Regions from separate parts of the Homo sapiens genome. Here region 2 is linked to region 1. Evidence: fine-mapped QTL for protein levels in blood plasma. A gene starts in region 1. The other region holds a variant in brackets. All regions are shown on one strand. Distances are from middle to middle. Region 1 holds the start of LAMP2 (lysosomal associated membrane protein 2). Region 2 overlaps LAMP2 (lysosomal associated membrane protein 2).

The links. A credible set is the group of variants that fine-mapping cannot tell apart. PIP is the chance, under the fine-mapping model, that this variant and not a neighbour inherited with it causes the effect. The UK Biobank Pharma Proteomics Project read protein levels with antibody pairs (Olink). The fine-mapping took linkage between variants from a reference panel, not from the people measured, so its PIPs are less certain.
Region 2: its variant is the best candidate, but not a certain one, in a credible set for the plasma level of the LAMP2 protein (UK Biobank, PIP 0.73).

What each region holds. Positions count from the first base shown.
Region 1 is chrX:120,465,502-120,469,852 of GRCh38, forward strand. It overlaps LAMP2 (lysosomal associated membrane protein 2), which reads right to left and starts at 3,795. Exons shown (of 9, transcript NM_002294.3): 1 at 3,605-3,795. The coding sequence starts at 3,668. RefSeq lists a silencer at 3,733-3,997.
Region 2 is chrX:120,448,037-120,455,146 of GRCh38, forward strand. LAMP2 (lysosomal associated membrane protein 2) reads right to left here. Exons shown (of 9, transcript NM_002294.3): 4 at 934-1,092. Among named protein-coding and RNA genes, the nearest start is that of LAMP2, 18 kb to the right of the region's middle. The variant C/A (reference allele first, on the strand shown) is at 240.

The DNA.
Region 1 (4,351 bases):
TGTCTGGTCAGTTACAATTCATCCAAATAAACACCAGCATAATTTAATCTCTATGAAAAAGACCAATATATAGCCTCTAAGAATCCTTTTCTGTACTTATTCTAAAGCTGCTGTTTTTAAAAGGTTATGGGTGAAGCTGGGATAGAGTTATAAAGTTACAAAGTCAAACTGGCACAGCTAGAGCACTAATGCTAATAAGACTATAAATTTAGGACAGGTCCTCCTTCATTGGCACTCCGTACAGTACCCAGGCACAGTTCTAGCTACATAGTAGGTACTTTACAAATATTTATTGATTTAGCTACATATTAGGTACTTTACAAATATTTATTAAGTTTTCAAAAACCTATTATTGGTATCCATTTTGATATAGAAAAGTAACTTGTGCAAAACCCACCAAGCAACTGCTAAATTCTTGACAGAAAAAGCTATATGGGAGGACTTTGGGCTCCACACTGAACCAAGAGCCATCAGAAAATGCAGCTGTATAGAAAAATGGTTTCTATTTCATCCTGGAACCTCTTAAAAATCAGATCTAGGTACATTATTAATATTTACTTTTCCAAATCCTGCTCTGAACTTGGAGGCGGAGGGAATCAATCTTGGAAATTTTCCAAGAGGAAGAATCTAGTTAGTCCTGATCAATAAATGGCAAACTAGCAGATGAGCTGATGGGTTCTTTTATGTGCTTCTTTTTGCATGTTTATTTTCTGCAGTGAGTAAGCATTGCTTTTGTAAAAACAAAACAAAAAAGCTTTCATTAAAAAACAAAAAAAAATTTAATGACATGAAAGCCAACAAGTAGGACAACTATTATTTTTTTCACTTTCCCAAAACAATAACAGTGTTGTATTTGTGCACAGATTCAATTGGCAGGGAACTACTGATTAACAGATGCCTTGGTCAGATGTGTTCTAGTCACTGATAAGGTACTTTCCATTGTAAACAATCCTTTCTTAGGGTCAGTTGGCCCTCAGTAAGTGCTCCAAGGTACAGTTAAGGCTTCCAATTAAGTATTCAAGCAAAGCCTGCCTCAAGGCCGCCTTTCAGAAGTGCTACAGAAGAGTTTCCTGCGCGCTGTGAACAGTTGGACTACATCAGGGATTCCCAAAGTTTTGGTGTCAGGACCCCTTTACTTTCTTATCCACTGAGGACTTCACAGAGGTTTATGTGAGTCATATGTATTGGTATTTACAGTATTAGAAATTAAAACTGAGAAATGAATAAAATATAAGAACATCAGAGTGGTGAGGTCATCACATGTTACGTAGCCACTGGAAAACTCTGCTGTACACTGGTGAGAGGATGAGAGTGAAAAGGACAAAGGACAAATAACTTCTTTTTTTTTTTTTTTTTTTGAGACAGAGTTTCGCTCATGTTGCCCAGGCTGGAATGCAGTGGCGCAATCTTGGCTCACCGCAACCTCCGCCTCCTGGGTTCAAGCGATTCTCCTGCCTCGGCCTCCCAAGTAGCTGGGATTACAGGCATGTGCCACGACACCGGCTAATTTTTCTATTTTTAGTAGAGACTGGGTTTCACCATGTTGGTCAGGCTGGTCTTGAACTCCTGATCTCAGGTGATCCGCCCGCCTCAGCCTCCCAAAGTGCTGGGATTACAGGCGTGAGCCACTGTGCCCAGCAGAAAAGGACAAATACCTTCTTAACCTTATTCCGAAGTTTTGATTTCACAGACGCATGAAAAGGTCCTCGAGAGTCACTGAATTAGATAATCAAGAACCCTTCCAATACTATGGTTTTCGAGCAGGATTTATCAATGTTGGCACCATTGACATTTTCAGGGAGATGATTCTTTGTTGTCAGGGGCTGCCCTGTGCTTAGTTAGGATGTTTAGCAGCATCCTTGGCCTCTACCCACTAGATGCTAAAAGCAATCCCCCAGTTGTTACAACCAAAAATGTCTCCAGATGTTGCCAAATGTCCCCTGGTTGAGAATCACTATTCCAGGGTGTTGATTTCATTCTACTGAAATGTGAATTACAAAATGTATACCTCTCACTGCTTTCTCAGACCCCTAATATGTCTATTTCTTCCCCACTCCCATCTGGGTCTGTTCTTTATGTTATTTTATTAAGTCACAAATAGCAAGAGCAGGTGGGTAGCAACAAGCACAGCATGAATCAAAGTCAGGAAGAGACACTTTAGTCAAAGTTCACTTTTAGGCATTAAAGTTGTTAGCGACCCACTGCCTATTAGGGCACAACACAATCAGCGAACATTCACCCAGCCATTTATTTATTGATTTATTTATTTTTATTTTTTGAGACAGAGTTTCACTCTTGTCGCCCAGGCTGGAGTGCAATGGCGCAATCTTGGCTCACTGCAACCTCCGCCTTCTGGGTTCAAGCGATTCTCCTGCCTCAGCCGCCCAAGCAGCTGGGATTACAGGCATGTGCCACGACGCCCGGCTAATTTTTGTATTTTTAGTAGAGACGGGGTTTCACCATGTTGGCCAGGCTGGTCTTGAATTCCTGACCTCAGGTGATACACCCACCTCGGCCTCCCAAAGTGCTGGGATTACAGGCATGAGCCACCACGCCCGGCCCCATCCAGCCATTCTTAGGCCCTGGTAACAACCCAATCCTTAGCAAGTTTGTCTACCTGCTCCCTGCACCCCCAAAATATGAGGTAATAGGCTAGCTGTGTGATGGGGAAGAAAGAAAAGAAGAAACTCTGAAGGCAAAGAGGTAGTCTACCAAACTCAAATACTCCACCCCCAAAACCTCACATCTGGGAGGCCCTCCTAACTGAAACGTCTGGGGATTTTTTTGTCAGCGTCTGGCTGGGAGGAAGTAGCAAAACTGGGAGAAAATCGACATCCTCAATACCTCCAAGTCAGATGTGCACTCCCCATCAAAGTTCCCCCTGAACCCCTTAGTCTCCAGAGGTTGGGTCCAAGTTTTCTTTCCTGGAAATTGCCCCAGCTACCTTAGGTTCCTTCGCCCTTAAAACTATGACTACCAAACTCAAACCCAGCATCACTCCTAATCTCTTGAATCATCCTTTCTTCACAGTCTCAAATTCCAACCTTCAAAATGCCCAACCCTGTCACTGCCCCTGCCCCTCAGGCTCTACTGTCCTATCTGTCCCATCTGTCCCCCACCCACACACTTCTCCCAAGCTACTCCAGGCAGGCATGGTCTTCTCTCTTAATTTCCTATCTCACCCCATAGTTTTTCCACCATCTTCAAAACTCTTCCCTGATCTCAGCAAACCAAGACTCTCCTAATTGTCTCTGGCGCCCAAAATCTGCATGTACCACCCTCCTACGCTCACTCCTCAGTGTTTTCCCCAAGTTACTCTTTCCACGCTGACCCTCTCCACGCTTCACTCCTCCCAGCCTACTCCCTCGGCGTCCACCCCCCGTTACCGGCCCCTTCTTACTCTCCTGGGCCCTTCTTCCCCGCCATCCGTCGGTCAGGCCTTCTCTAGGTCACCGCTTGCCTCCCCGGGCCAACCGCCGCCGCCCAGTGTTAGCTGCTGAGCCTCTCAACCCCCTCCCCCTCGGACCAGTCTTTCAGGTTGTAGCTTTGAACTGGTGCCCCGGGCCCAGGCGGACAGACTAATCGGGAGGGCCCGACAACTCACCCAGGACTAGGCAGACCAGAACGAGCCCTGAGCCCGGAACCGGGAAGAGGCGGAAGCACACCATGACCCCGCAGAGCAGGCGGCGACGGCGGCGACGGCGGCGGTACAACAACAGCTGCAACACCAGGGAAAAGGCTCGCTGGACCTGGGTCAAGAGCACTGATGACCACCGACCACAGCCTTGCAAAAGCCAGGAATCGGCGCTTCAGTGCGAGTCATAAGACTAGGGGCGGGGCTCTTTCTTGCTTACAGCCAATCTCCGCGCTTGAAAGCGGCGAGAGGGGTGGTGATGTAGCGGCCGGTGGGCGGGGCGACCACGCCCTGGCTTTTTGGTTCACAGCCCTTCCTATGCTCCTGAGAGATATGCGCGGACGGCATTTTCTTTTTCTTTTTCTTTCTTTTTTTTTTTTTTTTTTAATTTTACTTTAAGTTCTGGGATACATGTGCAGAATGTGCAGCTTTGTTACATAGGTATACATGTGCCATGGTGGTTTACTGCACCTATCAACCCGTCATCTAGGTTTTAAGCCCCACATGCATTAGGTATTTCTCCTAATGCTCTCCCTCCCCTTGGCCCCCACCCCTTGACAGGCCCCCGTGTGTGTTGTTCCCCTCCCTGTGTCCATGTGTTCTCATTGTTCAACTCCCACTTATGAGTGAGAACATGCAGTGTTTTGTTTTCTGTTCCTGTGTTAGTTTGCTAAGGATGATGGCTTCCAGCTTCATCCATGTCCCTGCAAAGGACAT
Region 2 (7,110 bases), 16 kb before region 1:
GAAAAGGGACAAAAGAAACCAAAGCGGACATTTTCTTAATTCATAAGGCCAGGGAAAACCAAAAAAAATTCTCATAATAGAAGTCCAAAAGGGTTATATTAGGGGAAGAGAATATCTTGTTAGTATATTTGAAACTAAATTAGGCAGAGGTTCTTAAACTGCTGCTTCATATACAGAATATCTACATGAGTTATGACACAGCAAACTCAGGACACATCCCTATGCTTTATCTGCTCCCA[C/A]ATGGCCACATACTCGTCTTTTTCAGACCCTTAAATCTTTTTATTCCCAAAGAACTTTGCCTGCCTCTGATACGAAATTCAGAGAGTTAAGTCTTAAATTTTTTGGTTCTTTATTCCCACATACAATCACCATAAGGAAGGATACTGTTTACTAGAAAAAAGCTTAGAAATCATCAAAGGACTTAAATACAAATGAACCATTTATTTGCATTAGCCCTATGGCAAATCATAGGCATTTCAACCTCTTCTTGGGAAGTGTTCATAGTTTTCCAGAACTGGTGAATGAGAAATTATTACCTTTCCATAAAGCTATATAAAAATTATAAAATCAACTTTAAAAATTCAAGATTAGAATATGAATCTGATTTCTAAGCTTTGGTCTTGGAACCGCTAAAAAAGCTGATAATCAAGCTATCTGAGGATCTGTTCAAACAATGATTAGGTTTTATCAGCTGAGAACAGTATAGGTAGTGTCTTTTAAAATACCATTCCACAACATGTACATCAAAAACTTTAAATTGTAAGATACACAAAAATAAGAATTGCTATTATTTACAAAAACTTTATAGCCTAGTAGAAGCTATGAATAAACCTTAATATATAAATGCTTTCAGATAATGACTTCAATGAAAGCTACCTGGTATACTCTACTCTTAAATTAGGATCCAAGTAGAGAAATATATACTTTACTCACCATTTGTGCTCACTGTGCCATTTTGGACAAAAGCTTGTACAAGAACATCCCAGTAGTGTTGGACAACATCATTCTTTTCCAAAGTTGATAAACTATTGCATCTAAAAAGGTCATTCAATGGAATTCTGATGGCCAAAAGTTCATCAACAGTAAGAATTCCTATAAAACAAGATTAACAATGGCTATTTCCAAGAAGGTAGGAGAAAAGTGATAATATAAATATATTTGTATAGGCTTTCTTCTTCTCTCTGCCTGCCCTACCCCAGGCACAAAGTGACAAAGGATATAGCATGCTTAAGGGCATGACTAGTTCACTGTGGCTAAAACATAAGGAGTAAGGGGGAAGAAGAAATGGGGGTTAGGGGCTGGGCACAGTGGCCCATGCCTGTAATCCCAGCACTTTGGGAGGCCGAGGTGGGTGGATCACCTGAGGTCAGGAGTTTGAGACCAGCCTGACCAACATGGTGAAACCTCGTCTCTACTAAAAAGATAATAATTAGCTGGGCATGGTGGCAGGTGCCTGTAATCCCAGTTACTTGGGAGGCTAAGGCAGGAGAATTGCTTGAACCCGGGAGGCGGAGGTTGCAGTGAGCCAAGATCGCCCACTGCACTACAGCCTGGATGACAAGAGCAAAACTCTGTCTCAAGAAAAAAAGAAAAAGAAAGAAAAAAGGAAAAGAAATGGGGGTTAAGAAGGAAAGACAAGTTGCAGGTGATCATACTTTGAAGCATCTTCTATGATCTAAGGCCTGTTTGGGCTTTTCTTTTTAGCAGTCGAGGGCTAGCCTCAGTTTTTAAAGCAGAAAATAACACATATATAATTTATTTTAAGGAAGATAGCAAATTTGTAGGGGATAAGCAGGGGGAAAAACTTTTCAGGGAAGCCACTTAAGAGGGAAACCAGAGGGTGATGGTCTGGTTAAGGTGAAGGGTAAGGGAGGGTTGCCTAAACTAAGATGGTGTGGGGCAGTAGAAAGAGAGCAAAGAAGCCAAACTGAAAACACTTATCTATGGTAGAATCATCAGGACTTAGTGACTATAACTAAAGAAGCAAGAGAGATGGATTAATCATACATTTGTATAGTAAATCCTTATTTTTGTTTTACTAGTCCCAAGTAAGTTATATTAACTCCAATGAGCTTATAGAACCGCTTCCTGGATTACATTTAAAGATGATTCCATTTCAGGGAATCTTCAGAGTATGAAAGCAGTAAGTTACAGCCATTTCATATAGTTTTTATTAGCCTGTGTATAGTGAAACTTCAAAAGACGATGATCACCCAAGTGGTTTGGCTTCTTTTGGAGAAGTAGCAAGAAAGGAAAGTATCCAAGGTCCTTAATATAGGCTGCCTTCTGTGCCTCTCCATCATGTAGCAAGCAGCCATATAATGCTGCCTTGGCACCCCCTAATGGCCATAGGAATTAAAAAACAAAACAAAACAAAAAACCAATGAACTAGAACATTTTTCCCAGAATTGCTTCTCACCGTTAACAAAAATGAATAGATACGTGACTGGCTGTATATAGATGGACTTCAAAAGCAAATCAGCAAAAAAACAACTTGCAGGCATATTGGAGTTATACTATGAATAGCTTTTTTTAAACTATGTATTGTTTATGAACACGTACTTATATAGTAAAAGACAAACATAAAGACAGGAAGGTTATACCCCAAATTTGTGAAAGTGTTTGCCTCTTAGCAGGCAAGAAGGAAAATGGGTCTGGGGAATGAAGACAAAGGAAATATCAACTGTATTGTCAACGTTTTATCTTTTTAATCAAAAAAGTAACACAAACATTAAAAAAACAGCATTTATTAATTCTGGATAATGGGTACATATGGGTCTGCTATATTATTCTCTGTATACATATATAATCTTTATAGATATATAATCTTTATATATATATATGTATATGTAGAGCCTTTTAAAAAACCCTTATTATATACGTAACTTATATATATATAATTTTTTTTTGAGATGGAGTCTTGCTCTGTTGCCCAGGTTGGAGTGCAGTGGCATGATATGAGCTCACTGCAACCTCCACCTCCTAGGTTCAAACGATTCTCATGCCTCAACCTCCCAAGTAGCTGGAATTACAGGTGCACGCCACCACGCCCAGCTAATTTTCGTATTTTTAGTAGAGATGGGGTTTCACCATGTTGGTCTCGAACTTCTGACCTCAGGTGATCTGCCTGCCTTGGCCTCCCAAAATGCTGGGATTACAGGCACGAGCCACCACACCTGGCCAGTACATTTCTATATTTTAATCACGAAAAAAATTTAAAAAAGAAAAAAGCAGCTTCAATGTTACTTCAGTTATCAGATGCCTAAAAATAAATTAGTAGTTTTTTATTTTTATTTTTTGAGACAGAATGTCGCTATGTTGCCCAGGCTAGTCTCACACTCCTGAGCTCAAGCGATCTGCCTGGCCTTCCAAAGTGTTGGGATTACAGGCGTTGAGTCACTGCACCTGGCCTAAATTAGTTTTTTTTGTTGTTGTTGGGGGTGGGTAAGGAAGGGTCTCCCTCTGTTGCCCAGGCTAGAGTGCAGTGGCGTAATCTTGGCTCACCGCAACCTCCGCCTCCCAGGTTAAAGCGATTCTCCTGCTTTAGCCTCCTGAGTAGCTGGGATTACAGGCACGCACCACTACCACCCGGCTAATTTTTGTATTTTTAGTAGAGACAGGGTTTCACCATGTTGGCCAGGCTGGTCTCAATCTCCTGACCTCCAATGATCCACCAGCCTCAGCCTCCCAAAGTGCTGGGATTACAGGTGTGAGCCACTGCGCCCAGCCATAAATTAGTATTCTTGAAACACTGAACTATATCAAAAACAATTATTAATAGTCCATTTCAGGAAGCCATTTAACATTCCAAATAGTTTCAAATATTATTATATAGAAGGTAGTAATTTAAAAAGTAATCCTCCCTTTGTTTTAAATAAAAGGGGAAAGAGAGAAGTGTTAACATTTCAGGGTCCATAGTTTTTCTATCCAAATATGTCAGATTAAACACCTCCTCCTAATAACTGCTAACAACTGATGCCCCTGTAGTCCAGGCATTTATTACATCAGCCCTTGATTACTATAACAGCTTCTTAAGCCAGCATCTCTGCTTGTAGCCTCCTCACTTCTCAACTAATCCTGCAGAATATTCTTTATAAGCTACTGTCTCTGCTTTTGTTATATCATTCTCCTGCTTTAAAAACCTAAAATGATTCCCCAGTGCCTGCCCCATCAAGCTAAATGTCTTTCCTTGGCTTCCAAGGCCCCCTATAATTTAGGCCCACTTCATTTAGCCAACTTTATTTTCCTTCTGCTACACACACAGCCTGATTTAATCAGGCAGCTCTCCAATTACTGCCGCATATGCTATGCTTCCCCCTGCTGGAAACATCCTGCTCAAAATCCTCCGCTTACTCAAATTCTACCATTAGCTGAGTTTCAGCTCAGGTCCTACTTCTCTACCAAGCTTTCTCACTACTCTAACACACACTGAGCCTTCCTTTATCACTCCTCCTAATCAGGACCACTTGTGGGAACACGGGAACACTTTTAAATCAGCCAGTCTTTTCTTTTTCTTTTCTTTTTTTTTTGAGACAGGGTCTCTCTCTCTCTGTCACCCAGGCTGAGTGTAGTGGTGGGATCACAGCTCACTGGAGCCTCAACCTCCTGGGCTCAAGCGATCCTCCACCCTAGCCACCCAGGTAGCTGGGACCACAGGCACACGCCACCACACCTGGCTTTTTTTTTTTTTTTTTTTTTGTAGAGACAAAGTCTTAATATGTTGCCCAGGCTAGTCTTGAACTCCCTGGCTCAAGTGATCAGCCTGCCTCGGCCACCCAAAGTGCTGGGATTACAGGCATGAGCTACCATTCTCGACCTAAATCAGGCACTCTTAACCACAGGGATCTACATATGGGTTCAGGGACTATGTTCCATATGCAAAGTTTACTGTGTACTTTTTCTTTTTTGAGAGGGAGTCTAAAGTTTTCCTCACACTGTCAGAAGAGATTTATGAACCCTCTACTCCCTCAAACAAAAACGCAAACAACAACAACAAAATCAGACTGAGCTCAATGTTTTCCAATTTTTCCATGTAACTCGGGAATAGCATTTAGCTTTGTCTCCCCAGCTCATTCTTAGGCTACTTGAAAGTGAGGGGCATATCTTATACTAGCTCTGAAAGGCAAAACAGGGCACAAAGATAAACTGATAAGATAGCCAATAACCATTTGCTTTAGTTATACTCTCAAACTAAGAGATTAGTAAAAAGAACACTAGGATTTGATTTCCAAGTCTCATTCTGCAATACCTCCCAAATTTTACGTGAGCTTATTTACTTCTGGTTCTTTCGAATAGGATCTTTTGACATCCTTAAGTCCAAATGAGTTATTAATCCCCAGGTCTAGGCAACTAAAGCCCATCTACCTGTTTCTGGGGTCAGAATGAAACACTATCTGCAAAGAGCTAAGCTACTACAAATACCACATTAACTCAATCTCAACGGGCAGGGGGAGAAAGAAGAGAATTATATCCCTAACAAAATTAAAATCTCGACCACGTGCGGTGGCTCACGCCTGTAATCCCAGCACTTTGGGAGGCTGAGGTGGGTGGATCGTGAGGTCAGGATTTCGAGACCATCCTGGCCAACATGGAGAAACCCTGTCTCTACTAAAAATACAAAGATTAGCCGGGCGTGGTGGCACGCACCTGTAATCTCAGTTACTCAGGAGGCTGAGGCAGGAGAATTGCTTGAACCTGGGAGGCGGAGGTTGCAGTAAGCCGAGATCAGGCCACTGCACTCCAGCCTGGGCGACAGAGCGAGACTCCAGCTCAAAATAATAAAATAAAATAAAATCTCTACACTCTATATCTTCAAAATATTTTAACACGCATTTCAGTTCTGGGAATTACTAGAATGGCCTAATTGCCAATGCTTCCCAAGTTCATTTTGACCTGAAATTGTCTTAAAATAACAGCAAATGTTGACTTTAGTCTCCCCTTATCCACGGTTTTTGCTTTCCCTGGTTTCAGTTACCCATGGTCAATTGAGCTCTGAAAATATTCAATGGAGAATTCCAAAAGTAATCAATTCATAGGTTTTAAAATGTACGCCATTCTGAGTAGCATGATTAAATCTCTTGCTGTCCCGCTCTGCACAACCAGGAACATGAATCATCCCTTTGTCCAGTATATCAACGTTGTCTACACTATCCATCCGTTAGTCACTTAGTAGCCATGTCAGTTATCAGATCAAAAAAAAAAAAAAAACATAGCATTTCCTGTATAGGGTTTAGTAGTAACTGCAGTTTTAGGCATCTACGGGAGATCTTAGAATGATACCCCCTGAGTGTAATGAGGGACTACTACACCTTTAACTAATCATCATTTACTTTTCAATCAAAATCCAACCTAAATGATAAAAAGATTTGAACAAGAGGCATTTCTCCTAGTCTCAGGTTACTTAACTTTTACACATTTAAAATAGCTATTAGTAGCCAGGCACAGTGGTGCATGCCTGTAGTCCCAGCTATTCAGGAGGCTGTGAGGCATGAGGATCGCTTGAATCCAGGAGTTCAAAACCAGCCTAGGCAACATAGTGAGACACCCCCCCCAACCCCCGATCTTGAAAATAAAGTAGCTATTAGTAAAGCATTTTCTCATTCATCAAACCTTTGTTTCATGCACACTACTGAATGAAATCAATAATAGTTAAGTATATGAATTCTGCAGGTCAATAGACTGCTTCAAACACCAGCTCGCCCACTTACCAGACTGTGTGATGTTTGGAAAAGTCATTTAATCTTATCAAGCCTCATTTCCTTTACCTGTAAAAATGAAACAACATCTACTTCCCAGGGTTGCTGTTAAGAATTAAGTGAGATGCTGCAGGTAACACACTAGGTGTGTTACTGTATACTAGGAGATATATATATATATATACACACACACACACACTAGGATATATATATATATATATACACACACACTAGGATATATATATACATATATACTAGGATATGTGTGTATATATATACTAGGATATATGTGTATATATATATATACATATATACTAGGATATACATATATATGTATATATATACACATATATATGTATACTAGGATATATATAGTAAGGTGACTTACTGTATACTAGGATAATACCTGGTATAC